7 linked regions of the Homo sapiens genome follow. The protein of the gene in region 1 purifies or fractionates together with the protein of each later gene. This does not show direct contact. Each region holds a gene or a part of one and is shown on either strand. Other genes may lie near its edges.

What was found.
Region 2: the proteins of NOP14 (region 1) and ZCRB1 purify together in Homo sapiens (co-immunoprecipitation; one large-scale study listed by IntAct). This does not show direct contact.
Region 3: the proteins of NOP14 (region 1) and DHX8 purify together in Homo sapiens (co-immunoprecipitation; one large-scale study listed by IntAct). This does not show direct contact.
Region 4: the proteins of NOP14 (region 1) and PAXIP1 purify together in Homo sapiens (affinity purification with mass spectrometry; 2 studies listed by BioGRID, with this or other methods). This does not show direct contact.
Region 5: the proteins of NOP14 (region 1) and NAP1L4 fractionate together in Homo sapiens (co-fractionation; one large-scale study listed by BioGRID). This does not show direct contact.
Region 6: the proteins of NOP14 (region 1) and ARID4B fractionate together in Homo sapiens (co-fractionation; one large-scale study listed by BioGRID). This does not show direct contact.
Region 7: the proteins of NOP14 (region 1) and SRFBP1 purify together in Homo sapiens (co-immunoprecipitation; one large-scale study listed by IntAct). This does not show direct contact.

The regions. Positions count from the first base shown.
Region 1 is NC_000004.12:2,942,635-2,946,980, forward strand, and holds part of NOP14 (nucleolar protein 14), read right to left. Parts: exon of another isoform or gene 4,239-4,346; intron 3,914-4,238; coding exon 3,778-3,913; intron 2,596-3,777; coding exon 2,494-2,595; intron 1,593-2,493; coding exon 1,439-1,592; intron 1-1,438. UniProt on the Homo sapiens protein: Involved in nucleolar processing of pre-18S ribosomal RNA. Has a role in the nuclear export of 40S pre-ribosomal subunit to the cytoplasm.
Region 2 is NC_000012.12:42,315,627-42,319,972, reverse strand, and holds part of ZCRB1 (zinc finger CCHC-type and RNA-binding motif-containing protein 1), read left to right. Parts: intron 1-2,074; coding exon 2,075-2,186; intron 2,187-2,525; coding exon 2,526-2,633; intron 2,634-4,346.
Region 3 is NC_000017.11:43,486,579-43,490,924, reverse strand, and holds part of DHX8 (ATP-dependent RNA helicase DHX8), read right to left. Parts: intron 1,477-4,346; coding exon 1,391-1,476; intron 535-1,390; coding exon 462-534; intron 1-461.
Region 4 is NC_000007.14:154,943,657-154,948,002, forward strand, and holds the end of PAXIP1 (PAX-interacting protein 1), read right to left. Parts: coding exon 4,247-4,346; exon of another isoform or gene 4,242-4,246; intron 4,118-4,241; exon of another isoform or gene 4,037-4,117; intron 3,197-4,036; exon of another isoform or gene 3,158-3,196; coding exon 3,023-3,157; exon of another isoform or gene 2,937-3,022; intron 2,932-2,936; coding exon 2,856-2,931; intron 2,838-2,855; exon of another isoform or gene 2,770-2,837; coding exon 2,709-2,769; exon of another isoform or gene 2,704-2,708; intron 965-2,703; exon of another isoform or gene 509-964; coding exon 493-508; 3' UTR 34-492; downstream 1-33.
Region 5 is NC_000011.10:2,957,465-2,961,810, forward strand, and holds part of NAP1L4 (nucleosome assembly protein 1-like 4), read right to left. Parts: intron 2,446-4,346; coding exon 2,306-2,445; intron 1,081-2,305; coding exon 935-1,080; intron 1-934. UniProt on the Homo sapiens protein: Acts as a histone chaperone in nucleosome assembly.
Region 6 is NC_000001.11:235,177,851-235,182,196, forward strand, and holds part of ARID4B (AT-rich interactive domain-containing protein 4B), read right to left. Parts: coding exon 3,735-4,346; intron 3,335-3,734; coding exon of another isoform or gene 3,243-3,334; exon of another isoform or gene 3,221-3,242; intron 64-3,220; coding exon 1-63. UniProt on the Homo sapiens protein: Acts as a transcriptional repressor. May function in the assembly and/or enzymatic activity of the Sin3A corepressor complex or in mediating interactions between the complex and other regulatory complexes.
Region 7 is NC_000005.10:122,024,475-122,027,974, forward strand, and holds part of SRFBP1 (serum response factor-binding protein 1), read left to right. Parts: intron 1-2,467; coding exon 2,468-2,652; 3' UTR 2,653-3,500. UniProt on the Homo sapiens protein: May be involved in regulating transcriptional activation of cardiac genes during the aging process. May play a role in biosynthesis and/or processing of SLC2A4 in adipose cells.

The sequences.
Region 1 (4,346 bases):
GAGGCGCTCAGGCCACATCCGGGAACAGACTGAAGTCCCTGCCCCTGTCGGGGAGACAGGCAGTGCACAGCACCCAGAGGAGCAAATGGACCAGACAGAACACGAGAAAGGAAAGTGGAGGGGCAGGAGGGAGACAGGAGAGTCAGTCGGGGGTGACGGTGGAGGGCGGGAGAGGCCTGAGGGGCAGACGTCAGCAAAGGCCTGTAGGACGCAGGAGTCAATTCACTCGCCACGGAGAAGGGCAATCCAGGCCGAGGGTGTGGCTACACGGGGAGGGGTGGAGAGTGGGTACAGTGGGGCAGAGGTGCCGGGCCAAGCGAGAGGGGAAGGCGTGGGTCAGGCCCCGCCCCACACTTCCCCAAAGCCGAGATGCCCACCCCTTCCTTGACTCCACCTGTGCCCAGCCTGTTCCGTCACAGCCCTTCACACGTGGGACTGCAGCTATCTACAGGTGGCTCTCCCGGAGGCAGGGAGCATGTGGGCGGCCGCGCCCCTCTGGCGCCCAGCACCGAGCCTGACAGACAGGAGCCTTGGGAGGCAGGTGGTGGCAGAATGGGAGCACTGAACCGGAAGAGTGGGCCAGACCCCTCTTGGAAGGGACTCTGCTGGTGGTGTGAATGATGCCACAGCACCTGCTCCTCAGGTCAGTCCCCTGGACATGCAGGCGCTTAGCACTGCACGGTGAGCTGGAAATAGAGGACAGGGGTCTGAGCCTTGAGGTCCAACCTCTGGTCAGGCTGGGAGAGGCGTCCACAGACATGGAAGAGCTCAGGAAGAGGCTGTGCAGCTCCTCACCCCCCAGAGGGAAGCAGCAAGTGCTGAGGAAGCATCCAGGAGCAGGGCTGGCATCAGGGGAAGGGGGAGGAGCACAGGGGCTGGGGTGAGGGCCCAGGAGGGCAGCCAGTGTGCAGACTGCTCCTCATCCCAACACTGCTCTTGCCGCCCTCGCTCCTGAATTCAGAGCGTTAAGAGAAGCGACACAGCAGCGCGGCCTGTGTGAGCTGCACGAGAACTTTCACACTGCCTTGTCGTCACGTGAGAAAAAGTAAAAAGTTAAGATTGATTTTAACAATAGACCTTATCTAACCCCAAATACCAAAATATTATGATTTTAACACATAATACAAAAAATTAAGATATTTTAAGTATTTCTGACACTAAGTCTTCGCCACTTGGGCATATGTCACAGGTAGGGTACGTCTCAGTTCAGACTCTGGCCCCTGGCAACCACGCTGGACAGCACAGGTCACCGGTAGCACTGCTTTTCCCCATGTGGCGCGTGCACACGCTCACACAGAGGGACAGACAGTGCGGCGGGTGGCAGGTTGTGTGTTTCCTCTACTTTCGCATATTCTAAACTTTCTACAATGAGTATGAACTACTTAAAAAAATTCTAAAGTATAACATATTTGTAGGAACCTCCCTCAAATCAACTCACCTTGGCTTGCTTTGTTTGGAGTTGCTATGTAAAGAATCCCAAGAAGAAAATTAATAAGCTCAGGTATAAACCTCTGGGACAAAGCCACATACTCCAGGAACAGGCAGCACACGAACAGGCCCTTCACCACGTCCTGGAGGGACAGGATGGGGCACTGGAAAGGAACATATGGGGGGTTACTGTCCTGGGACGATGTCATGCCATGCTAGGCCGACCACCGGGCTTCCCTGATGAACCACGCACCCCACTGAGCTTCACAAGTACAGAGGGAACCCCCGCACCTTATAGCAGTGTCGAGAGCATCAAATGAGATGAAAACAAGATAAAGAGCTTTAGTGATTTTTTTTTCCCGAGACGGAGTTTCACTCTTACCACCCAGGCTGGAGTGCAATGGCACAATCTCGGCTCACTGCAACCTCCACCTCCCGGGTTCAAGTGATTTTCCTGCCTCAGTCTCCCGAGTAGCTGGGATTACAGGCATGTGGCACCACACCCAGCTAATTTTTGTATTTTTAGTAGAGACGGGGTTTCGCCATGTTGGCCACACTGGTCTTGAACTCCCGACCTCAGGTGATCCGCCCGCCTCAGCCTCCGAAAGTGCTGGGATTACAGGCGTGAGCCACCGCGCCTGGCCAGAGCTATACTGATTATAAAGTTCCTTCCACCCATACAGAGCGTACGATTACTGCACTAAGCATGTACCAATCACATGCCTAATAAAGAAAAAGGAACAGCTTGAACTTTTTAAGCCAAAAAGGGAACAAAAGCCCTTATCATCACACTGGATAACTTCACCACTAACTTGAAAGGTTGTTTTCTGGGGTAGCACCATCTGTAACCTTGAGGTGCCAAACCAGGCCCTCCCACTCCCACCCACATCTGGGGCTGCTCGAGCCGGGGCTCTTTTAGATGGGCCCTCTTTGGCCTAACCGCAGTGCTCGGTCTCTGCAGCCCTTAAACAGCCACACTCATGTTCCACAAGGCCCCGAGGGGCTGTGGCTCCGGCCACCCGTGGTGCAGCAGGCCGACCCCTGCCGCATGTGGAGAGAACGCACCTTGGTGAGCAGCTGACTGAGGCACACGAGGGCAGGGGTCACCACTGGGTGCCAGAAGTCGGAAGTTGGAAATAGCAGCCCAGTGATTTTCAAATAAATGAGCTGGAAAGAAAGTGTTACCACAGGTTAAAGAAGGTAAATGAAGTCCATCCATATGCCCTCCCCGCAAACACTCCGGAGCCAAGAACAGGATCTGGCGAGGAGAGGGTGCATCTCCTTGGCCCAGAGCTCTGGCCTCAGTGTCACAGAACAGGCGTCCAACCACCGTGGGTCAACCAGCTAAACGTGCAGTGAGGACACTGAGGCCCATGAAGACTTCAAAGCAGTCAACAATGGTTATAGACACGGGCTCAGATCATGTTTTGGGGAGTTGATTAAAAATCACTAACCTAAGTCCTACATTTTTAAGCTTCTGCTAACTATTGTGAATCCATTTCAACACAAACACCAGGCAACAGAATAAAGAGCGTATCTCAGCAAGTATTTCCTTAAAGTTACTAAAGCTGAAAATACAGCATGAGGCTGTTATAAAATTGTTAAAAATCTCAGCGTACAAATGTCTCCCAACCTTTGAATAACATAGAAACCGAGACCAATTTAAACCAGCCCACAGGCTTGGGCCCTTAAGGACAATACCGTGGTTCTATTTGCCTTCCAATGTTTTTGTCACTGGACCAAATACAGCACCATTCACGTGGAATCAAACCAGAATCTCCCTGCACGACCCACACGTTAGTCCATGGCTAGTGGAGGAGTGCCCTCCCCTCCCAGGCTCGCTGCCGTGCACTCTCACTCCAGATCACCCTCACTGCCGTGCACTCTCACTCCAGATCACCCTCACTGCCGTGCACTCTCACTCCAGATCACCCTCACTGCCGTGCACTCTCACTCCAGATCACCCTCACTGCCGTGCACTCTCACTCCAGATCACCCTCACTGCCGTGCACTCTCACTCCAGATCACCCTCACTGCCGTGCACTCTCACTCCAGATCACCCTCGCTGCCGTGCACTCACTCCAGATCACCCTCACTGCCGTGCACTCTCCAGATCACCCTCACTGCCGTGCACTCTCCAGATCACCCTCACTGCCGTGCACTCTCACTCCAGATCACCCTCACTGCCGTGCACTCTCACTCCAGATCACCCTCGCTGCCGTGCAGCTCACTCCACATCACCCTGGAAGCACAGGGTACAGCCAAGAGCATCGTACCCGTCGTCCACCTTCTGTGATGCCAAACAGAACTTCTGTGGCAGGGGCAGTGCCTAGACTGAACTCTGCTTACCACATCCAACCCTGGCAATGCCGCCCGGCCTTTGGTCTCAATCATTTCTTCCATCTCATGCATCGCATCTCGGAGAACAAATTTGATAGCGTCACTTGCAGATTCAGGAAACATCTGGCAAAGATGATATAAGTGCCTGTTAAGCAGAAATGTAAAGTCAGGAGAGAATGACTTTAGATAAGAAACACAGAAAAGCCCTGCAAGCCACTTTCCTATGCAGTCACCTGTTGACTGAGCAAGTAAGAACTGGATGAATCCGCTTTTTCTAACAGCATTCTTAAGAGTCTACACTCACTTCTGCCATTTCCTAAAAACTCGGCCATAACATTATGGACTGGAGGTGGTGGGAGAAACAGCTCGATTTGTGGTACAGACGTTGTTGGGGGCACCACTCTGTGTGGCAGCTGCAGCTGACAGCTCCAAGGCACTTTCCATATTAACTCATTTATTCCTCACGACAGGTACTTCTTTGATAGTGCCTCCATGCATGCAGAAGATGACGTGGAGAGCTCCGCGCGGCACAGGGCAGGAAGCTGGTGTGCACTCTCATGGATCCGAAGCCAACACAC
Region 2 (4,346 bases), on another chromosome or scaffold:
CCACTAAACTGTAAGATTTCTCCTGAGGGTAAAAACTACTGTTAGTGCTTAGCACATGGGCTTGAGGCTAACAGAGTGACTGAGTGACCGAATGAATGAACACACACAATGTACTCTTTTAGAAACTACTTTTCCCATTTTTTTGGTCTGTCTTTCCCATTGAATATAAAGGTATATCTATCAATCAACATATTGAGCTGGGCACATATGGATTACAGAGACAGCCTTAAAGGAGTTTACATTAAAATAGATGAGATGAGGCATTGTTTATGAATAACACAATTCAGCAGAGACTAGCATAACGGAGGAGAAATTATATCCAGTTGAAGCTATTAGAAACTGACACATTGACCTGAACCCCGAAAGAATGAGGAAAATTTTAATGAGCAGTGATTCAGAGGTGGAAGAAGATAGAAGCTGTATGAACAAAGGCACAAATTTGGGGAAATACAGGCCATGCTACTGGAGCATTGAGTGGTTTCTTTTGGGTAGACTTCATAGTGTGTGCGTGGGAAGGAGCAGTGAAAGATGAAGGAGATGGGAGCCAAATCATCAAGGATACTGACAGTGGGACAAAGAATAGGCAACTTACAGAACCAAAGATTTTTGAACAAAGGAATGGTGTGATTTTATTTATTCCTTAAGTAGAAGACTACTTAAGGATATGAGAAAATTATAAGAGAAAAAATTACCATAAAGGAACCAATAAGAATAGACTGTTAAAACAGTAATGCCCCTATGGACAAGAAAAAAGCAGTGGAATTGGAAAAGAGGCAACAGATGAGAGATCATTAATTGAGGATGATGTAGAAAGCCAATACTTCTTTTGAAATACTACTTTAAAAAAAAAGACTGATAACTTTCACAAACATTACGAAAAATTCCAAAACATAAAGCAACTACCTTATTCAATATTTCTGTCAAATTGGTGATTTTTCCAACTCCAGCATTCCCTCTACATTCACCAGTCATCCCTTGGCATTCTGTTGTAAGCAAGAGCCTTCCCTCCCATCTCCTCCACTTATTTATTGGTCTTTTATCAGTAAGAATTATAAATTCCTACCTTCTCTGTGGCTTATAATTTATTACTGTAATGAATTATTTTGATGCTCAAATTGTCCTTGATTTGGCCAGTGGGAGCTCCTTCCAGCTGGCTGCTGTATTCTTGGCCCCATCATTCATTCATTCATTCCTCCCTCCGTCTCTCTCTCTCTCACTCGCTCACGCACTCTTGCACTCTCTTACCTTCTGGCATAAGATGTTCCAAGCTCCTCTTGTACCTGCCCTGCTGTAGCCTTGGAATCCGCTATTTCTCCAAAGAGCCCTGTTGAACATTGTTTTTAAACTATGTTAAATGACATACGGTGGGCAAGGGCCTCCATGACTAGGGATGTGGATGGGGCAGGAGAAAGAGCAGGCTCTGTGCTCTCATAACTCTCCTTGTCACTCAGGTACACCCTGGTGGGTGGTATGGCTAAAAACCACAGAACTGGAGATTCTTTTTCCCTAAAGATCGGGGTCTCATTATGTTGCCCAGGCTGTTCTCAAACTCCCATGCTCAAGCATCCTCCTGCCTCTGCCTCCCAAGTAGCTGGAACTACAGGTGCGCACCACCACAACCAGCTCTGGAGGGTTTTTTTCCTTATTTTTCTGAAGATTCTTTAAAAGAATATTAAGAATATACTTTGATTCTAACACTTAGAAAAATAAATAAATCATTTTACTTTTTGTGTAAAGTATACCTTTATTTTGTTTTGTTTTGCAAGGTGAGGGAGTTAGCATGGAAGAGGGATTGTGGTTACACTTTAAGATTTCATTGTCTCTGTAATTTCTTTACTTCACCCTTCAATCTCTGATTAACTCCTAATCATAGCTGTGCTCACTTCTGTTAAATCAGTATCACCCTTTCCCATTTCCATTCTTGATATCCCTTGACTTTGAAGAGATAGCTGATTTTTCAAATGTATTAATTTATCTTATAAATTTTTAGCCCTTTTTAAAATGAATTTTTCAAGTATTAGTATCTGTTTTATTTATTGCTGCCTCATTTTTAACTCTTTGTTTATGCTTTAAGGGTTACCATCATGAAAGATAAAGATACCAGGAAGAGTAAAGGGGTTGCATTTATTTTATTTTTGGATAAAGACTCTGCACAAAACTGTACCAGGGCAATAAACAACAAACAGGTAAGCTATTCATCTCCATCAAGGTTTTTAGCCCCAAAGCCTTTATGCTCATCCAGGCCAAAAATGTGGGGATATAGTGGATCATCAGGTCTAGCAGATATCAGTAGATTCTTAAGATATCTAACTTATAGAAAGAAAAGAGGTCAAACTACTGGGTTCTCAAAACATTGGTGGAATCTCAGGAATAAGAATACTACAGAATAGAATTTATCACACCTAAGTGACAATTGCTAAAAAATCCAAAATAAACTGGAATTGAAGATTTGAGAAAATTGATTAAATAATTAATTTTAGGTTTCAGTGAAATACATTCTACATTTACATTTTTCTCTTGTTTAGTTATTTGGTAGAGTGATAAAAGCAAGCATTGCTATTGACAATGGAAGAGCAGCTGAGTTCATCCGAAGGCGAAACTACTTTGATAAATCTAAGTGTTATGAATGTGGGGTAAGTAAACCTAAAACTTAATGGAACTTTCCATAGTTTAAGATACTTTTCACATCAGTCTTTTATTTTTGCTCACCAAAACTTCTGACTGGCTAAACCAGATTATGAAAATGCTTTATTTTTTAATATTTATTTTTTTGAGATAGGGTTTTCCTCTGTCACCCAGTGCAGTGATGCAGTCACAACTCACTGCAGCCTCTACCTCCCGGGCCCAACTGATCCTCCCACCACAGTGTCTGAGTAGCTGGGACCACAGGCATGCACCATCACACCCTGGTTAATTTTTAAATTTTTTTGTAGAGGCAGGGTCTTCCTATGTTGCCCAGGCCAATCTCAAACTCCTGGGCTCAAGCAGTCCTCCCACCTCAGCCTCCCAAAGTGCTAGAGTTACAGGTGTTAGCCATGGTGCCTGGCCTAGTTGTTAGGGTCTCTAAACTCATCAAAGTAAATTCAATTGAAATGCAATGTGTAAAGATAACCTGAGTTGGGTAATACAAAGTGGTATTTTCTCTAGTTCCTAAATCTTTGAAAATCACTAGTTTTAAAAGTGTTAGACTGATTACTTATGTCACTGTCTTGCAAGATTTTCGTAACTCATAAATTTTTGTTAATAGGATATTGCCTGTTTCTTTAACAGTTTTTAAGTCACAGTTCAATAGCAACATTATCATGTGACTTTATCCTCTATGGGATATTGTGTTTTGAAGTTTTTTATTTTTTCCTATTAGTATTGCTAGTGTTTTGTAACTGAACTATCCCCACATTTTCTTCTTTGGTTCTCTTCATGATCTGTCATTATCCATTTAAAGTTTTGGTGATGAAGAGAGAGAGACAGCCATAGAATAATTTTGTATAAGGTCTGTATTGGTACCAAGAGAATTTTAGTCTGGTTCTCACAGGTGTAAGTTTGTAAAATGACCATAAAAATACTTAAGAAACAGGCCGGGCACAGTGGCTCACGCCTGTAATCCTAGCATTTTGGGATGCTGAGGTGGACGGATCACTTGAGGTCTGGAGTTCAAAAGCAGACTGACCAACATAGTGAAACTGAGTTTCTACTAAAAATACAAAAAAAAAATTAGCCAGGCATGGTGGCAGGTGCCTGTAATCCCAGCTACTTGGAAGGCTGAGGCAGGAGACTCGCTTGAACCCAGGAGGTGGAGGTTGCAGTGAGCCGAGATTACTCCACTGCACTCCAGCCTGGGCAACAGAGGGAGACTCTGTCTCAAAAATAAAAATAAACATAAAATAAAATACTTAAAAAACAGAGTCCAGAGGTAGTAATGGGGAACTGGGGAGAGAATCACTGAAAGATACCGTCCTGGCTACAAAATCACATGGAAGATGCAAGGAAATGGCTTGAGGTCCTCTACCCCACTGTCACTCCCCATACCCCCGACAAAAAAGATAACTAAATAAACAGACTGATGGATGGATGAATAGAAAGAGTGAGCAAGCAGTTGCTTGGATACATACTGATTCTGTCAATTCCTATGATTCTAAAACCTCTTAAGTAAACACTTTAGAAACTTTTCCAAAGTTTTGAGTTTTGTAAAAGAAAGAAAGGGAGGGAGGGAAGGTAGTTATATTCAGATTAGTATATATCTTCATATTCACAGTAAATATTAAATTATCTGAGAAATCCTAGATGAATCTGTTAATCGGTTCCTTTTGGTTTATGGATCCATAGAGTTGTTATATTTTTTACATTTT
Region 3 (4,346 bases), on another chromosome or scaffold:
TTATCTTTTTTATTTTGTCTTAAGTCGTTTGAAATTTTTTTTCCCCTTGAAACGGGGAAAAAAACCTCTGTCACTCAGGCTAAAGTACATTGGTGCAACTATGGCTCACTGCAGCTTCACCCTTTTGGACTCAAGCAACACTCCTTCCTTAGCCTCCCAAGTAGCTGGAACTACGGAGGCACGCCATCATGCCTGGCTAATTTTTTTATTTTTTTGTAGAGATGAGGTCTCTCTATGTTGCCCAGGCTGGTCTAAAACTCCTGGGCTCAAGTGATACTCCCACCTTGGCCTCCCAAAGTGCTGGGATTCCAGCAGTGAGCCGCTAGGCCCAGCCCATTTGAAAAATCTTACTGGAACATTTACTTGCTCAGCAACTGCTGAGAGGAAAACAAATGCAATTTACAGGATGTTCAAAACCTACACCATTCTAGAAGCTAAGCTCAGCTGGAAGCTCTGCTTACCTTTGCTAGTGGAAGGCTTCGCTGGAGGCCGCATGGTTTGTATGAGACGCAGCAAGTTACTAATAAGAGAATCCTTTGAAAAGAAACATAGAACGAAAATTGTCAGCTCCCATATCAGTGCTTAAATACACTTAAAAGGCAAAGAATGTCCTGTAGGGAAGGGTGGTTACGCACTTGAATTTAGCTAATTGGAATACATGAAACATAGTGTGTCAACCTGGTGTAGCATGAACCTAGTATAATAGCTTCAGAGAAAGCCGATATTTAGGACTCTTTGGGGAGAAAAGTTATTAGGCTCCCTGCAACCATTTTATTTCCCAAGGTTTAGAACTACCCCCAAAACTTGTTTCCAACTTCCTGACTCACAGAACAAGAATGTAAATACCTACAAAGACTTAATGATGAAAATCCTGCCCTGTTTTCCTAGAGGTATCACAGAAAATCTGGTTAAATCATCACTACTTAATGGCATGAAAACATTACACACTTAATGGCTTATTTAATTGATATGTATAAAATTGTCTCCTTCCTATATCAAAATCCTATATTAAACCCTATCAAAATTTAAAATCAATAGTGACATTAAAACATAAATTATGTAATCCCAGCACTTTGGAAGGCCGAGGCGGGTGGATCACGAGGTCAGGAGATCGAGACCATCCTGGCTAACACGGTGAAACCCCATCTCTACTAAAAATACAAAAAATTAGCCGGGCATGGTGGCAGGCACCTGTAGTCCCAGCTACTTGGGAGACTGAGGCAAGAGAATGGCGTGAACCCGGGAGGCGGAGCTTGCAGTGAGCTGAGGTGGCGCCACTGCACTCCAGCCCAGGCGACAGAGCAAAACTCTGTCTCAAAAAAAAAAACAAACAAACAAACATAAATTAAAACATTAATATCTACAGATTATCTTCTCCACATATACATACCGTAAATTCTGCACCATTTTTGACGAGAGAAGCCTTAAAAGTATCAAAGGTGGTATTTTTCTCAGCAAGACTGATCACAAATTCAGCTGCAAATAAGAAACAGAATTCAGAAAAGAAGAGACATGAACAAGAAATCAGTTTCAAGTATGGTGAAAACAAAACTAATTAGGTTATCCAACAGTAATAAAAAACAAAGACCACCATCTGGTAAGGGTAAAGAGAGAAAATCTGGCCAGGTGTGGTGGCTCATGCCTGTAATCCCAACACTCTGGGAGGCCAAGGCAGGCGGATCACTTGAGGTTAGGAGTTCAAGATGAGCCTGGCTAACACAGTGAAACCCCGTCTCTATTAAAAATACAAAAATTAGCTGGGTGTGGTGGCAGGCACCTGTAATCCCAGCTACTTGGGAGACTGAGGCAGGAGAATCACTTGAACCCGGGAGGCAGAGGTTGCAGTAAGCCGGCATTGCGCCACTGCACTCCAGCCTGGGCAACAGAGTGAGACTCCGTCTCAAAAAAAAACAAAAAAAACAAAACAAGAAAACAAGAGAGAAAATCTAGACTGCTGAAATTATCCACACATATTCTAGAGAATTTATACAAATGAAAGGAAGATATTACTACAAAATGGCTCAATGTAGCCCTTGAGTGCATTTAAACTAGGAAGACCTATTTGACCCACATCATGGTACCCTCTTCTCACAAAACCACTACCTGGGCACGCTGCCACCTAGACTAGACTGTAAAGGTGACAATAAAAAGCATGAGCCCATGTAGACACACAGAGGCACACAACAGAAGGACAGACCCAATCTGTATATGAGGGCCAGGCAGCTGCTGGGTGGTGCAATCTCCACATTGATGAAAGACTTTTTTGCCAAATTTTTCTCCACAAACCTGCCTAGTTCTTCTTTTTTTTTTTTTTAAGACAGAGTCTGGCTCTGTCGCCCAGGCTGGAGTGCAGCGGTGCGATATCGGCTCACTGCAACCTCCACCTCCCGGGTTCACGCCATTCTCCTGCCTCAGCCTCCCGAGTAGCTGGGACTACAGGCGCCCACCACCACGCCTGGCTAATTTTTTGTATTTTTAGCAGAGACAGGGTTTCACCATGTTAGCCAGGATGGTCTTGATCTCCTGACCTTGTGATCCACCCGCCTCAGCTTCCCAAAGTGCTGGGATTACAGGCATAAGCCACTGTGCCCGGCACACCTGCCTAGTTCTTGAAACTTTCTTTTTTTCTTTTTTTTTTCTTTTTTTTGAGACGGAGTCTCGCTCTGTCGCCCAGGCTGGAGTGCAGTGGCGGGATCTTGGCTCACTGCCACCTCTGCCCCCTGAGTTTAAGCGATTCTTCTGCCTCAGCCTCCCAAGTAGCTGGGGCTACAGGCGCATGCCACCATGACCGGCTAATTTTTATATTTTTAGTACAGACAGGATTTCACCATATTGGCCAGGCTGGTCTCGAACCCACGACCTTGTGATTTGCCTGCCTCGGCCTCCCAAAGTTCTGGGATTACAGTCATGAGCCACCGCACCTGGACTTTTTTTATTTTTTCATTTTTTTTTAACAGTCTCACTCTGTCTCTCAGGCTGGAGTACAGTGGTACGATCTTGGCTCATTGCAACCTCCGCCTCTCGGGTTCAAGCAATTCTCTTGTCTCAGCCTCCTAAGTAGCTGGGATTACAGGTGCCCTCCACCACGCCTGGCTAATTTTTGTAGTTTTAGTAGAGACGGGGTTTTGCCACATTGGCCAGGCTGGTCTTGAACTCCTGACCTCAGGTAATCCTACTGCCTCAGCCTCCCGAAGTGCTGGGATTACAGGCATGAGCCACTGTGCCCGGCCTAGTTCTTGAAACTTCTAATATTAGAGCTATTTATTAAGCTACTTTCAGACAGTGGCTCACGCCTGTAATGCCAGCACTTTGGGAGGTTGTGGTGGGCAGATTGCTCGAGCCCAGGAGTTAAAGACCAGCCTGGGCAACATGGCAAAACACCATCTCTACAAAAAATACAAAAATCAGCCGGGGGTGGTGGTATGCATCTGTAGTCCTAGCTACTCGGGAGTAGACTGAGATAATAAGCCTCATACTATGAGACCCACAAAAAAACTGTAATGCTTTCATTTGAATGCTAATCCTAGAAAAGTAAATGAATAAATAACATGAAAGATCTAGATGACTAACTCATAAAGTAGTACTACCATACAATTTCCATCCTGGAATGTGCCTTTATCTTTCTGATAAAGTGAAAGCCAAATGCCATCAGGCTACACGAACACATCTTATGCATAATAAGTTAGTAACGATAATGTCAATGGTTAATACTTTTTGAACATTACTACGTGCCAGGCACTATGCTAAGTGCTTTTTATGGGTTACTTCATGATCCCCAAAACAACCCTCATAAGTAGGTGCTATTATTGTCATGTTTTACAATGAGGAAGCTGACGGTTTGAGACACTGACCTACCCAATAATAACTGGGGGGAGCTAGGAATAAAACCCAGGCAATCTAACTTCAGAGGCTACATTCTTTCAAGAAATGTGGAGGGAGAACTAAGTCCCATGGTGCTAGGCATGTCATGCTCAAAAGAGCCCCTCCCAAAGCAGTCTGAAGCACATTCTCACTGCCAGCCATCAGTAATCTTTTTTTTTTTTTTTTTTGAGACGGAGTCTTGCTCTGTCACTAAGGCTGGAGGGCAGTGGCACGATCCTCTCACTGCAACCTCCCCATCCCAGGTTCAAGTGATTCTCCTGCCTCAGCCTCCTGAGTAGCTAGGATTACAGGCGTGCACCACCACGCCCTGCTAATTTTTGTATTTTTAGTAAGACAGGGTTTCACCATGTTGGTCAGGCTGGTCTCGAACTCCTGACCTCGTGATCCACCCGCCTTGGCCTCCCAAAGTGCTGGGATTACATGTGTGAGCCACTGCGCCTGGTCCCATTAATCAGTATTTTTAA
Region 4 (4,346 bases), on another chromosome or scaffold:
AAAAATGTGGAATAATAAAGGATTACTCAATTCTAAGTTCAAAAGTACATTTATTTAAAATGTGGGCAAGATATCAATATAAAAGAAAACAGAGTATAAGAAATAAAAATAATCAAAGTACAAAACATTTCAAATCTTTAACATCCATAATTTAGAGATAGCAAGGTCTTTATTTACACCATTTTATTTCTAGTTGAAGTCCCGTAACAGTTTTGTGAAAACATTTAAAAACCTGGCAAATGAATCATAAAACCTAATGTGGGCTCTTAAAGTCATATAATACAAAACATAATTTATGTTTCCTCAGAATAAAATTGCACATCTTAAAAAGATGCAGTATATTTATTATATCTGTCTTCCTGCTTCACAGTCTGATCCCCCAGGAAAGCAGCTGGAAAACAAGAGCATGTGAAGGAAGCGCAGCAGCTCCTCGCCAGCCAGACAGCCAGCCCCGCACCGCAGGAGTCGACATGCACGGCAGCCTAGACGCCATCAGTTAAACTTATATGTAGGCTTGTTGAGGAAAACGACTTTCAAACACAAGGCAAAAGAAAAACATGAAACCAAGGGTTCCAACATTCATCATCCAGTTTCAGAGACACCCTTGAAGGAATGCTACAGCCTCTTTCTTACCCATTCAAACCAGTCGCTCTGCTGCATACCCACATCACAGGAGGCCCTCAGCCCCGACACACAGGCTCACTCAGCCCGGGGACATCAGCACCTGTGCCAGCTCCGCAAGGTATCCACCATGCGGCCAGAACTGAGGCCCAGCAATAGCTGAAATGTCCTTTAAATTAACATGTACAACACACAACCCCCAAGAGCTGACATCCCCAAAGCCCCACCACAAATAGCTGACTCCTACTTATACCTGCAGGAGCAGGTAGTGACCTCTGCAATTCTAAACCGTCCACTTTGGGCAAAATTCATCAAGCTATGGATATGAAAAAAGGCCCCCAAGGTAATACTCATAAGTCTCCTGTATGACTTTTAAAGCAATTTCTTCTGAAAGTAAATGTAGTGTAGAACAGGCTTTCACAAATACAAACATGAATGTTAGGAAAAAGTCTGGAAAAAATGCAAGAGTACATGTTGTATAAAAACCAAATGCTTATAGCATATCTGTAAAAATTTAACAGGCCTCTTATCATTCCTATCAGTAGCTCCTACAATAATTTTCTAATAGATGGCGGTATGGAATACAGCAAGCTCTGGTATGAATGGTAAGAGCGTTTCTGCACCAAGCCTCATTCCAACTAGACAGGCTATTTATTTATGGCTAAACATGACATTGGATTCTGGGACTGAGGCAAATTTTACTTCTTTTTTTTTTTTTTTTTTTTTAAAGACAGAGTTTCGCTCTTGTTGCCCAGGCTGTAGTGCAATGGCGCGATATTGGCTCACTGCAACCCCTGCCTCCCAGGTTCAAGTGATTCTCCTGCCTCACCAAGTAGCTGTGATTACAGGTACCCGCCACCATGGCCAGCTAATTTTTTCTATTTTTAGTAGAGCCAGGGTTTCACCATGTTGGCCAGGCTGGTCTCGAACTCCTGATCTCAGGTGATCCACCTGTCTTGGCCTCCCGTGCTGGGATTATAGGCATGAGCCACCACGTCCGGCCAAATTTTACTTCTTAAAAGTGCTTTTCTCTCAGTGATATCAAGGTCTTCTGTCTACTATTATAACCATAAGCTCTTTAGCGTTAAGAGGAAAATGTTTGATAAATGTAATTAACTGGATGAATGTCAGTGTATTTAAATGTAAATATACTTAAATGTAATTACCTGGATGAAACAGGCACACACGAAGAAAAAAAAACTCGGCAAGGATGGGTATCATTCTGACCTCTGCGCCTTACTGAAGCAGTCCTATCCCAAACACAAAATTCCCCTGCTTAAGGAAAGGTCCACTGAGGTTGACACTGGTCAGAGGTGGCAGAGGCTCCCACCCTCACAGAGAGGAGGAGCTCCAGCCTCATTGCAGGAGGCCCAGGGAGAAGTCCTGAGAACAGCCCTGAGAGAAGGTGCTCTGCAATGGGAAACGGAAGTGGAAACAGAATTTTCCCATAAGGACCTGTAAGGCATGTTTTGCTTCACTGATAGGCTGTTCCTACATTAAAATAATAATTCAGAGATTTTTAATAAGGAATTCAAATAACAGATGATGAGCTTTATTTTTTCCTGAATGTCTGAAATAGAAAAAAGCCTAGGTGTCAATATTCTAAAGACTGACCTTTGCATTTTCCTGACATGTTGATGAAGTATTCATTCTGCCGCTTCCATTTAGTAGTAATTTATCTCCCATCCCAAAGTTCCTGAGTACAAAGACTATATACGAACTAAATTTCATTTGGAAAACTACAAACTCAAAGGTGAGCTGATAAAAAGAAACATATATTTATTTTTGCAATTATTTTCTATTTTATCTAATTGTCAAATTCTTTAATACCTCCATAAACTAGACAGTATAGATCCTTTCTAATTAACATCACCTATTAAAACTGAACTCTCAGTAAGTTAAGAGAATATTTTTACTAGCAACTCAAATGAATATTCTGAAGAGAAAAGAATTGTTCACTGCATAAATCACAATAGCAAAGAAAGGAAAAATGGCTTGCAAAACAGGAAAGGTACTGCCTTATTAACCTGGGAAATCCATTTCATATCTAACCCGTCTACTTTTTAATTCTCTTTTGGAAAGGATATGATTCATAGTCCAGCGTTTGAGTGAGCACTCCAGTCAGAACGAACTCTGCATTGTGAACATCTGAACAGGGTGGAAACAGACACTTTAGTTAGAGATCCACTGCTGTGCGTGCACACATACTCACACAGGTAAGCGGGGAAACGTACCTATGCCTCTGGCAAAATATTCTCGGCATAAATGAAGGTCATTTTCACAGGATATTAAAATTATTTCCGACAAACTCTAAGGAAAAGAAAATGAGTTTCTCAGTGACCGAACGCTGAATGTGATACAGGGCAATGACGGACTCGCTGGCGGACTCCACTCTACCCACCGAGTTCTGCTTGTGCTCCATGAGCTTCCGGAAAGATGGCTGCTTGGATAACACCTTTCCTCCTGCACACTCTACGATTGCCTTCATAGTGGAAAGACTTGGGCAGATTCCAGGTGTGATGTAAAAATATTTTGCCTAAAATTAAATGAAAATATATGTATTATGTTCTTAAAATGCTTTAATTTTTAGAGTACATAATTCTCATAGATTCTGCCCTGAGATTTTTGACAAAATTTCAAATTTTATGACATTATGAAGGTACTATTCTCCTACTAGCACTCAATCTGAAGTGGAAGAGGAATCCAGCTATGTAAATTTGGAATGTAAGCATTTTCACATGTTAAGTATGCCTGAAGATGATTTAAAGTAACCAGAACTTAAGTCCCTAAAACAAAGTGTTTTGTGAATAAGCAAGAATATTACAAATATTTTTCACAATTTCTATACAATTTTAAATCAGCATTATATTTCACCACACTTATCTGCCCAGCAACAGCCTCTGGCATAGCATGCTGCCTGGCTTATATCCCTTTTCTTTATTTTCTCCATATTATTTGAACTCAGAGCAGGAAATGATATTGATGCTTAAGATTTAATTATCTAACAAGATTGCTCCTGAGGATACCACAAAATACTATTCTGTCTGAAACTGCAAATAATTTCTAATTCCTGTTGACTCCTTAAGAAGGTTAAAGAACCGATTATCTTTATTGATTTACTTAGTTCTTTGGTACAAAAAAAATTCCTAGCTGTTCTAACACTTATCTAACATTTAAAAATCTTTTAGTACTGAATTATATCTATGCACACACTGAATATTTTCCCAAGTATCTTCTCCAGCTGAATATACATTTACTGACAATAGTACGAAGTAAGCGATGTCCTCTAAAGATTTATTAAAAGCAGAAAAATGAACATGCCTCTTAACCAATTACTCAAAAACCTATTCTTTGAATAACTTATTTCTCATAGATGTATTTATTAAATTTGTGTACTTATTTTTAAACATTATAGTAAAGAAAAGTTCTCTAGAGATGTGCTGTGGTTCACAGGAGGAAGACCTCCAGTGGCAATGTCCAAGAAGGAAGCCAAGAGGTAAATGGGATGCAGGGTGAGCCCAGCTCCCCTGGAGGCGCACTTCCCACCAAATCACCTGGTAGTTCCCTTGAGCAGGTCCGTGTGTTATGCTTACTTGGACTGATTTACTTTTCCCTTAAAGTGTACCTTAAAGAGTGGAGAAACGTGTGCCCGTTTTAAGGATTCTTCCAAGCTGAAAGAGAAAAGTACTTCTGCCTCAGCATCTCGGAGAATGTAGTTCTGCTCA
Region 5 (4,346 bases), on another chromosome or scaffold:
TGGAGAAGAGATCCGCCCTGTGGCCCCACATACAAACAAACACTCACTGATTATCTGCAGCAGGGGCTGGCATCTCTTCACTTCAAATTATGTTTTAGTTCATGGAAACTAAAGAGAATATGGATATTTTAACACTGACAAGTTGCTTGACCTTCACATTTTCTCGCGATTAGGAAATTATATGAAAAATCCCAAGAAATTTACTCTTAAAATCAATTGGTCAACCTTTACTAGCTCAAAGGTCTCATCTTTATTTTACCACTTAGGAAAATTTAAAAAATAAATAAATAAACAAAAAGAAGCAGCTTCCAAGCTGTGATTCTGCCGATGTTTTTCAAAAATGAAAGTCCCAACTACTTGTGTTTCTTACAATATATAAATTCCAAAAAATTCTATCAAATTATGCATAAAAAATTACAAGAAAAGGGGGACTAAGCAGATGATCCAAAAGCAGCACAACTAGAACCAGCGTACAGCAGTAACGGGTACCTGCAGAGCAAACCCAGCAGCTCTCCGAGGCTGGGAGTGGTCCCCGGGGGGTGCGAACCAGACACAACAGCGGGGCAGAAATGCCAGCTGGTGGAGAAGGGTGCTCCAGGTGTCCAAGTGAGGAAGCAGCCCAGGTGCAAATACTCGATTCAGTTTTCTTAAAACAGAACTGCAAGTTTTTGCCTGGGCTACAGCCAAGCAGAGTAAAGCTCTTCCCTTTCCTGCAGAAGATGACAATCCTACTCTTACTGTCCTAGCTACCTCTGCCCCCCGCGATAAACTTGCCAGCGCACCAACAGAACAGCCTGGGACACAGCAATGTGCCCCTACTGACCACACTTGCCTGAAAAAAGAGGACTAAAGTCTCTGGGTGTTAGGAATCTATCAGGTGACCAAAATTATTTTATATAAGAACATAATGAATATTAACAACCAACAGACTTGCCTTTCAATGGATTGAAGAAGTTGAAAAAGGACTCATTGGGTACTTGTTTCGTAATTGTTCTAACAGTGCCTCGACCCTTATGCTTCTGCTTTTTCTTGATGGTTTTGACAGTAACATTCTTTCCTTTCTTCCAGTCAATAGTACACCTACCAGGACAAGACAGCTGTCAGGAACACACAATCCATGAGAAAAATCCATTACAAATGCATGCAGGAAGCAAACCACAGCTCTATGCCAAACCTGGAAAACGAAATAAAACCAATCTGCAAACCAAATACAATGGCCCATGAAGTTCATCTGGAGGTTGGCAAAAAGAGAAACAGCCTGGTCCTCTTTCAACTTGGGTGTGACCACTGGAACTTCAGACTTCTGGAACAATGGTATTATTTTCCCAAGACATTTCATCAGGACTCTGAAATGTATATTCTGTGGCAAAGCCCCGTCAAGTCTGCATGATGCACAAGAACTTGTCCGCGGTTTCCCAAGGAAGGAGGAGTTGCTGCTGTTCAAAGCAGCCAACTGAGCACGACAAGCTGAAAAAAGGAAAGAGGTGGCCACCGGGAATACTGATGGCCAGTGCAGACCACTCCAGCCCCAGGGATGCTGGCGAGGGCTGAGCACAGCACGCTCTCTCTAACACACAATCACCACAGACCCAGGCAACACCTGGCAGATCTCAATACTGCCCGCTTAAGAACATGCTTGGTAAGGCCAGGCCTTTTTCTCACATGATGTCCTGGCCCTGGAAAATCATCTTTCTAAATTACTCTAGCAGGATTTTAATAAAGTCCTGAATTAACAATTACTATTTACTTCTGGTAAATAAACGTAATTGTTTCAAGTCAAGACTAAAACCATTTCTCAGTCAACCCAACCTGGAGAAATTAATTCTAAACCAAATTCTCTCTTTAGTGATTTATAAAGACTGAAATCAGTGAGTCAAACAACAGCTATGCTGCCCCCACCTATTTCCAAAGCAATCAGCTGATCAATATAGCCCTGGACTCAGACTCATTCATTCAATAAGTATTTATTTGCTGAGGGTAATCCATGGATTCAATTTTAAGAACTTCAATTCACGATGTCTAGAGAATCCACTACTTTCATTAAAATGAAGAAACAGGGCACTATCCCAAAGGCTTGCATGTGCAACCACGTGACTCATTTCCCAGGTTCAGCCGCCATCTCCAAGTTCTGCACTATGAGCATTCCCAAACTGAAAGACTATTGAAATATACATCTACCAGGCTTTTAGGCTTTTAAGCAGACTCAAGACTGTACTTTATTCCTTACTTCTATCTTACCCATCAAGTTACAAAATTATCTTTTGATTTTGTTTCAGAAAAACAAGGTAGAATGACATTTTCTTACCCGTCACAGTCCACAATCTCAGGACCTTCAAAGGAAAAGGGATCAGCCTTATCTGGTTCTGATTTCATCTTGTAGGTTTTTGTCAGGACTGAGTTGGTAAAGTAGTCGTTGGGTTCAAAGTGGAACTCTAACACAAAAGACTAAAAGTAGAAATTCAGAGTAAGCACCAGTTAAAATAGAAAAATAACGAGGACAGATTGCTTGGAGTACACAACACTTACTAGAAGCTATTTTGGGAAAGCTCAACAGATAGGGCCATGAACAAGAAAAACTTCTCCACCGCAAAAAAGACTAGCGTGAGGTTAAAAAAACCAACGATGGACTGGCGGGAAATATCTGTTCAGTTCATGAGTAAGGGGCATGTTCCCCCTCCAATGCCTCCTCACCAATAGGCGTCAAGCTCTCCTAAGAAATCCTAGCTTCTCTTAGCTGCTCCCAGCCCTTGCTTCCTGGAAGGAGGGAAGGTGACTAGGGGAAAGTAAGGGGACCAGCAGTCCATCCTCCTCCTGTCCTTTTCCGCTCAGCCTAAGCCCCAGCCCCCACCCTGCTGGGGGAAGCCAGGGTCTCTACTCTGTGCTGTGCAGTGAAAGCAGTGACCCACAGCTTTTCTCCCGGGAGGTGGGTGGGAGAAAAGGACAAATCTCTACAAGGACAGAAAGCTCATCCCTCACTTACAAAGCACGCTACAGACCTGGAAGAGACGTGAGCACACCGGGAAAAAGGATGCAAACATGAACGCAGGCATAGAACAACCAACAGCAGCAACAAGGCATTCATGCTCACGAGTAACAAAACACATGAACACCAAAATGAGATGCCTTTCTTTGGGGCAAAATGTACAAAAATATGTAGACCCGGCCAGGATTTTGGGGTACTGAGCACACTCATGTACTGTCGACAGATTTTATGAAGGACAATTTGGCAATATCAAAAAAAATTAAATTAAAAGGCATATTCCCTGACTCAGTAATTCTATTTTGAGGAATTTGTTCTATTTGAGAAAAATACCTGGATGGATGCATCGATATGTGCAAAGACATTGACCTCATCCCTATTTATAGAAGAAAAACATGGAAGATGCGCTTGGTTGAGTAATTTATAGACAGTTTACAAGACCAGTTCTACGCTCAGACAGCCTGGATTCAAATCCCATCTCTGCCTACACTGCTAGGCAACTCGCGGAAGCTACTCAATGTCTCCGTGCTTTAGTTTCCTCATCTCTACACTGGAAATAACTCTCTCCCTCTCTAGGAGCTGCCTTGGTGGTTAATCTGTATCACTTAGAGCCGCGTTTATAGGCAAGGCTGGCTAAATGTCAGCTGTTTCCATTTTCATTGTAATGGTAAAACCATCAACGGGGGGGAAATTAAGAGGACTAAAAAAAATATACAGCAAAAAAAGTTTATACATTCAAACAAACCACTTGCACAAAGGAGAAGTGAAAAAACAACTTTCAAAGAAAGGTGGAGGAGGAGGCGGGGCATGAGGGCTTAGGAAGTCAGGATCAGGGAGACAGTCTAGTCGGTTTCTAGAAGGGATGACAGCAGGATCTGGCTAGGAGCTCTCCACTGGCCTTGGCAAGAGCAAAGGAAGCGGGTAGGGCACTGCAGATGAACCACACAAACGAAAGGCCAGTCACCTGCCTGGCAAAAATCACAAGGAAAGGAAGAGGCAGCTACAGGGAATCAGCATCAAATAAAATGCCTATTTCTCTCCCAACCCTCCACGGCTTAAAAAAAAAAAAAAAACCAACATAAAGAGGGAAGACAAGTAGCCAACCAATGGAGAGACTGCTATGATTCCAGAACTGTTTAAGGCTGTGACCACAGTGTGGACAACCAACCCAGGGCATGGGGTGGCCCCAATAAAACAAATAGTACTATTAGACTTGTGGTCCTTCACCATGTCCTACTCATTTTTTCCCCTCCTTTTTACTTTCTCTTTTAAAGACCAGTTCTCCCTATGTTGCCCAGGCTGGTCTTGAACTCCTGGGGTCAAGCAATCCTCCCACCTTGGCCTCCTAAAGTGCTGGGATTACAGG
Region 6 (4,346 bases), on another chromosome or scaffold:
TCTGCTTTTTTGATGAACTTCCTCCTCCCTGAGCATCTTTCACTCTTTTCTGACCTGTACAGGCTATGAAGGGAAAGGAATTAAGTAACACAAAATAAAATCCAACATTCCCTAAGTATAAATTAATTCCACATTTTAGAAACATAGAACAATCCAAAACTACATGTTCTTTATGACATTTATAAGTTGTCACAGAACTTACTACAATTTTTAAATAAACTGTCATTAATGGAAGCTCAATTCTTATACATAATAAAAGTCAGGGTTTTTAAAAAGGCAAACAAAGTATGCACATCCTTCTTTAAAAAAATCAGATATAAACTGAAAATAGTCCTTAATATAGTACTGGGAGTTTATAAGCCTAGTAATTAAAAGTATATGCTGAAAATAAAAACTGAAATTTGTTAAGATTCAATAAAACCAAAATATTAAGACTTAATCACAGGTTAAAATGTTAATGACATTATGTCTTATAATCATATTAATATAATTTTTAAATGATATAAATGAGGTAAATTTTAGCAGTAATTCATACTTGGTTCTTTTTTACCAATTTATGTCAAGAATAACTAAGCTCCCAGGGCACTGTTTGGTTAACATGCATACCATTTACAAATCCAACATAGTAGTTCTAAAAAACGTCTCATCTTCTTGGTGGGAAATTATTGCAAAACATTACAAATAAATGTCTCCCTTTTCTTCAAGGACTAGCCCAAGTCCTACATCTTCACTAAGATGTTCCAGGCTTCACTGATCAATCACTACTCTGAACTGTAGCATTTTTCTATACTACTCATTTGGTCCTTAACATCTGCTATATTTCTGTCTAATTCATATATGTTATCTCTCAGACTATATAAAGTAAGATTTTTTCTCCAGAGACTAATAAAGTACTATCTCCATTCAGTTCCAATGTCAGACACCAAATCAACCTTCTGTGTATAAAACCTAACTTCCTTGATCAAAAACAGGACAAGTAATTAACTGTCTGCAACTTCCTAGCTTTTTTTTAATGGGTCATATAATCTTACTTACAACTTTTCCTAATACCTTTTTAAATTTTTAATATTTCTTTTTTATTTTTTACACCAAGTATGTGACCCACCTAATGTCATTTTAATATCACAATTTAAGTGAAACATAAAGGAGACGTAGATATTGACCATACTGAAGCACAGAACCATAATTGTCAGGTTTCTCTCCAAGAGAGTTTAATTCTAAAGTGTTCAGATACTAAGAAATAAAAACCTTCAATGTAGAGTAAATTAAGAGGAAAAAACTACATCTAAATAGTAAAACTTAAATTTTAACTTGTGATATAGTGGGGAGTCTCCAATATTCATAGTAAGTAAATTTATTAAAATGTGGCCATGTGAAACAGGTGCTTAAGAACCTATTTCTGGCTGGGCGCGGTGGCTCATGCCTGTAATTCCAGCACTTTGGGAGGCCAAGGTAGGTGGATTACCTGAGGTCAGGAGTTCGTAGACCAGCCTGGCCAACATGGCGAAACCCCATCTCTACTAAACAAAATACAAAAATTAGCCGGGCGTTAATCCCAGATACTCAGCAGGCTGAGGCAGGAGAATCTCTTGAACCTGAGAGGTGGAGGTTGCAGTGAACCAAGATTGCACCACTGCACTCCAGCCTGGGCAACAAGAGCAAAACTCTATGTCTCAAAAAAAAAAAAAAAAAAAAAAAAAAAACCCAACAAAAAGAAAAACACCAATTATTTCTAAAGAGATATAAATTACCCTAAATTTAGGAGTAGCTTTCAAATTCCACAATTATTAACCTAGTCAAGATTAAGATTCAAAAGGGCAGTGTTGACTTAGTCTATTAGCAGAGAAGATATCCTCTTTTTTTTTGTTGTTAATTTTAATCTTTTGTAAGATATTACGAACATAATAAGGATACAACCTCTTAAAAACTACAACAATAGGCTAGGCACGGTGGCTCATGCCTGTAATCCTAGCACTTTGGGAGGCCAAGGCAGGCAGATCATGAGGTCAAGAGATAGAGACCATCCTGGCTAACATGGCGAAATGCCATCTCTACTAAAAATACAAAAAATTAGCTGGGCATGGTGGCACACGCCTGTAGTCCCAGCTACTCAGCAGGCTGAGGCAGGGGAATCACTTGAACCCAGGAGACGGAGGTTGCAGTGAGCCCAGATCACACCACTGCACTCCAGCCTGGGCAACAGAGCGAGACTCCATCTCAAAAAAAAAACCCCCAAGAAAACCTATAACAATAAAACCTGTTTTTTTCTTTCTTTTCTTGTTTTTTCTTTTTTTTTTTTTTTTTTTTTTGAGACAGGGTCTTGTTTTATCACCCAGGCTGGAGTGCAGTGGCGTGATCTTGGCTCACTGCAGCCTTTCCGGGATCAAGTGATTCTCCCTCATCAGCCCCCAAGGTAGCTGGGACTACAGGCATGCGCCACCACAGCTGGCTGACGTTTGTATTTTTGGTAGAGATGGGGTTTTGCCATGTTGTCCAGGCTGGTCTTGAACTCCTGGACTCAAGCGATCCACCGCCTTGACCTCCCAGACCTCCCAAATTGCTGGGATTACAGGTGTGAGTGACCACACCTGGCCAGTAAAATCTTACTGTTGAAAGCCTAATATTCTGAAATAAAGGATTCTTTCATTTTGAAGATTAGTCATGCCTGGATAGTTCAGTTGCATGAGATAGTATGGCACAGATAAAATCATAGTAGTTATACTTGTAAATGTGAAAAAAAGCAAAGAACATTTCAATTTAATTGCAAGTATTTTTTTAATTTATTTTAAAACAGAAATGTTTTAAGTCAAGATTCCTGAGAAAACATAGAATTAACTAATTTGATCTAGACCATATCTCTTTAAGCTTTGCTGAAAACCTAAAGCTAGCATTCTAAAATCTTTTACGGTATATAAAAAACATACTCCAGTGCTCTGTCTTTACGATGGAAAAGTGTGTTCCAAAGCCAGGTGTCAGCCTAGAGTATACTGATTTAAAGATACCTGAATGAAGTGGTTTATAAGAAAAATGATGACAGAAGTATGGCTATGGCACCATCGAAAGGCACTAATACTTTGGGAAGGTACCGATTTGAATTTCCACTTTTAACAATTTCACGGAAAATCAAAAAAGTATTACTGTAGGTTATTAACGTACACATTGGTCCTTCAATTTGGAAGCTATGCATCTAAGAAAGCATCAAATTCCTTTACAAACTCACACAAGTTAGTCAGGCTTGAAAATCAGTTTGACACGGTTGTCTGAGGAAAGCAGTGCCTGGACAGTTGGTTGCTCCAAACCCCTACATACAGTATTTGGTTAAGGGTGGAGGGGTCTGTCAATAAATCAAAATGTTCGTGAGAAACTGCACATTACAATTGCAAAAACAATGTTACAGAAATAGATTTAAGCTGCTCATGCCATATAGTCAACCACTGCATATAATGAATTCTCAAACAGGTTTGGATTTGGGCCTGGGTGCAATTTCTAGCATGTGTTCTGGTCCACAATAAAATGCCATGGATGGCTCAAGCAAAGCACATTAAAGCCTTCTCAAGCTTTTAAATGCATTCCACTATTCATTTTCAAATTACCTTTAAAATTTCCATTTTTACCATGTTCACACAAATATGACACTTAATCGCCTCAGGTTATAACAAGAGATACTGTGAAATCATTGAAACTTTAAGAGGGGAAACCCTAAAATAAGTCAACATACACATTTTCCTTCTCACCTTTTTCAGGATGTTCTGGTTCTGGCTGATTACTACTGCTTGAGCTCACACTGGCATCAAAACCTGCTGGCGAGCTATTCCCTTCAGACTGGAGGTCTTGGAGCTCCCCAGCAACACTATCCACCTCAATTGTGCTATCAGTTTCACTCTTGATACTTCGAACCTCTTCTTGGTTTGGAGCCAGTGGTTCTGATACTGTTACAGAAGACTGCTGCCGGCTGCCTTCTGTTACAGTGACTGATGAAGGCGATTCAGGTGTAGTAGGAGGGGTATTTAGCACTGAATTACTGCCACTACTTGGAAATTCTGCTTTTCTGTCATTGACCTCTACTGTTTTTTCTTCAATGGGTTTACTATCGACATTGACTGGAGGTGGTTTTTCTAGTTCTACACTGGGTGAACAACTCTCCTCTTCAGCCACAGTCTGCAGTGACTCCTCTGCCACCCCCTCCTCTGGGGCAGGATGCGGTGGGGAAGCTGCAGCCTCAGTATCAGAGTCTGAAAAAAGCTCTTTCAGCGTTTTTTTAGGCCACTGTCCCTGAATACTTGACCAGACATCTTTTCGATCTTTGGCCCTGCTGTTTTGAAGTCTTTCATCAGAGTTATTTAAAA
Region 7 (3,500 bases), on another chromosome or scaffold:
GTCTTGTGCCTCTTGCCTCCTCTGGATCCTAGGAGTTCTCTTCATTCATCAGCGATAGAAAAGTAATGGAAGATTGAATGTGAGGTTTTTATGGTCCAGGCCTTTTACTCACATTTTATTGGCCATAACTCAATTAGCCATGTGACCTCACCTAACTGCAGCAGGAATGGAAACTATATTCTGATTGTATGCCTAAAAGGAAGATAATACAGGATTTGGCAGAAACATGTCAGTATGCCCCATTTATACCATATATTCACAAACACAGGATAACTGTAAATATAAGACATACCTACATTTTCACAATGAGACTATCCAAATAAAGGGTTTTTTGTGCTTAGCTTGTATGCTTAAAATATTTACTAGTTTATTTACATATACAACTCTATGTAATATATAAAATAATACATTCATTTAGAAATACTACCTTATTCAAATCTCAGTTTTTATGAAACAGGTTTTTGTTTTGTTTTGTTTTGTTTTTTTTATTTTTATTATTATTACACTTTAAGTTTTAGAGTACATGTGCACAACGTGCAGATTTGTTACATATGTATACATGTGCCATGTTGGTGTGCTGCACCCATTAACTCGTCATTTACCATTAGGTATATCTCCTAATGCTATCCCTCCCCACTCCCCCCACCCCACAACAGTCCCCGGTGTGTGATGTTCCCCTTCCTGTGTCCATGTGTTCTCATTGTTCAATTCCCACCTATGAGTGAGGACATGCGGTGTTTGGTTTTTTGTCCTTGCGATGGTTTGCTGAGAATGATGGTTTCCAGTTTCATCCATGTCCCTACAAAGGACATGAACTCATCAGTTTTTATGGCTGCATAGTATTCCATGGTGTATATGTGCCACATTTTCTTAATCCAGTCTATCATTGTTGGACATTTGGGTTGGTTCCAAGTCTTTGCTATTGTGAATAGTGCCGCAATAAACATACGTGTGCATGTGTCTTTATAGTAGCATGATTTATAATCCTTTGGGTATATACCCAATAATAGGATGGCTGGGTCAAATGGTATTTCTAGTTCTAGATCCCTGAGGAATCGCCACACTGACTTCCACAATGGTTGAACTAGTTTACAGTCCCACCAACAGTGTAAAAGTGTTCCTATTTCTCCACATCCTCTACAGTTTTTTTTAAACTTTTCATCTCTACAGCCACTCTTTGAATATTGTAACAGATTTCTAGAGCACATGTGATTTGTGTAAGATAAGGGTTGTTTTGATTTCTGTCTAGATAATGTTTTGTAAATATTATCCCAAACAGTGCACTGGTTTATATAACATTTTTACATTTGTTTTCTTAAAGAGGTCTTTAAAAGGCTTCTGACAGGCCGAGCACGGTGGCTCATGCCTGTAATCCCAGCACTTTGGGAGGCTGAGGTGGGTGGATCGTCTGAGGTCAGGAGTTCGAGATCAGCCTGACCAATATGTCTCTACTAAAAATACATAAATTAGCCAGGCATAGTGGCACATGCCTGTAATCCCAGCTACTTAGGAGGCTGAGGCAGGAGAATTGCTTGAACCTGGGAGGTGGAGGTTGCAGTGAGCCAAGATCACGCCACTGCTCTCCATCCTGGGCAACAGAGCAAGACTCCGTCTTAAAAAAAAGAAGTCTTTTGACAATGATTCCTAACTTGCAATGGAGAAATTACATAGTCATAGGACTGATTAAGAAGTCTATATTAAGTTTTTTTGTCTCTCTTTTTCTTTCTGATTCCATCTCCTAAGTTCTGTAAGCAACTAAAATGTGCATTGATGCATATCTTTTCATACTAGTGTATCTTCGCCAAATAAGACTTGGTTCAAAATCATGTAAAATGTTAAGATACTATATGGACTAGAATACAAGTTGCCACCTTCATATCTGGAGATTAATGTTACAACTAAAAAAGAACTTTGTCTTATATTCTTGAGTAGACTTAGTACTATTTGCCTTGTAATAACCACTTTTGGTTCAATAACAGACGGGAGTGGAATCAACTTATAGCCTTTAAAAATGAGTAAGCACTATCAGTATTGTCAGACTCAGTGGAGTGTCTTAGCTAAGATGTGAATTTTCTGGCTACATCTGCTTCATGTACACAGATATCATAAGCTAATGATGTTCCTTTGAAAATACATGATGCCCTTCTTTTTTGCCTTCCATGCTAGTACAACAGAGTGATTCCTTTCTTTATGTTGTTATAAATAAGACAGCACAGCATAAATTAAGAGGCACTCAATAAACATCTACTTATAAGTGTTAGAAAGCATGTGTGTCAAAATTGACTACTTGTATATAAATTTTCAACTTCAAACTATTCCCTGTTAGACTTCAGTTTTAAATTGTGAAATATTCCATTTAAGAAAACAAAATTTCTTTTTTTAACATTGGTTTGAAAAAGATGAAATTTACTTCTCCTATATGCTCTTTAAGTATATAGTTATTATTATTTTTGCTTTCTCTTCCTAGATTTTCCACAGAATGAGCCTCAGATCAAGAATCAGTTTAATAAGAAGCTATCAGGAAGACTTGAAAATACAAAACAGCAATTGCAGCTGCCTCTTCATCCTTCATGGGAAGCAAGCAGAAGGCGAAAAGAACAGCAATCTAATATTGCTGTGTTTCAGGGGAAAAAAATTACGTTTGATGATTGATTAGTGCCTCTTTCTGCAAACTTTTCCATCTAAAAAAAAAAATGTTTTTTTTAAGACAGGATCTCATTCTGTTGCCCAGACTAGAGTACAATATTGCAATCACAGCTCACTGCAGCCTCAAACTCCTGGGCTCAAGTGATCCTCCCACCTCTGCCTCCCAAAGGGCTGGGACTGCAGGTGCATGCACTACCATGCCCAGCTTTCTCACCCCAGGCTCTGCAGCTATTACTTAAACTCGTATTTGAATAAGTCTCTTGGGGAGAATTATAGAATGTTTGTTTTTGTATTTTTTTTTAAAGTAAATTCAACTTACGCTTATATAAGCCTTTCACAAATCCAATATGTACTTAAATTGATTTTTAATAATATCCCTCAGACTGTTTCCCTTATGAAGTAATTTGGGGATTTTAGTGATCTCATATTTTCTCTTTAGTGCTTATCATGAAATGTGCTTCACTGGTTCAGCTCTGTTGTTTCCTTAAACATAAATGTCAATATATATTTAAAATAATAATGGAAACATAGGAAATCAGCTATTTAAACCAGATCACCCTTGTTAAAAATCATTCTTGTTAGCAAACTAAAATAGTAACTTTTATTATGGATGTACAGATAAATATTAATTTTATTATAGTTTTAAGTACTTGTGATCATGTACTTTTTGATTCTAAAATAGTTGTCTAGGACAATTTTGGGATTCTTAATTATATTTTAGTTAAGAAAATTGTTTAAATATAGCAATACAACCAATAATTTGTTTTATGTTTCACTGCATATAAATATTTCCATTAAATCAAGAATGTATATTATCTAGTTTTTACTATACTTATTTTAAAATTTTTGAGGAA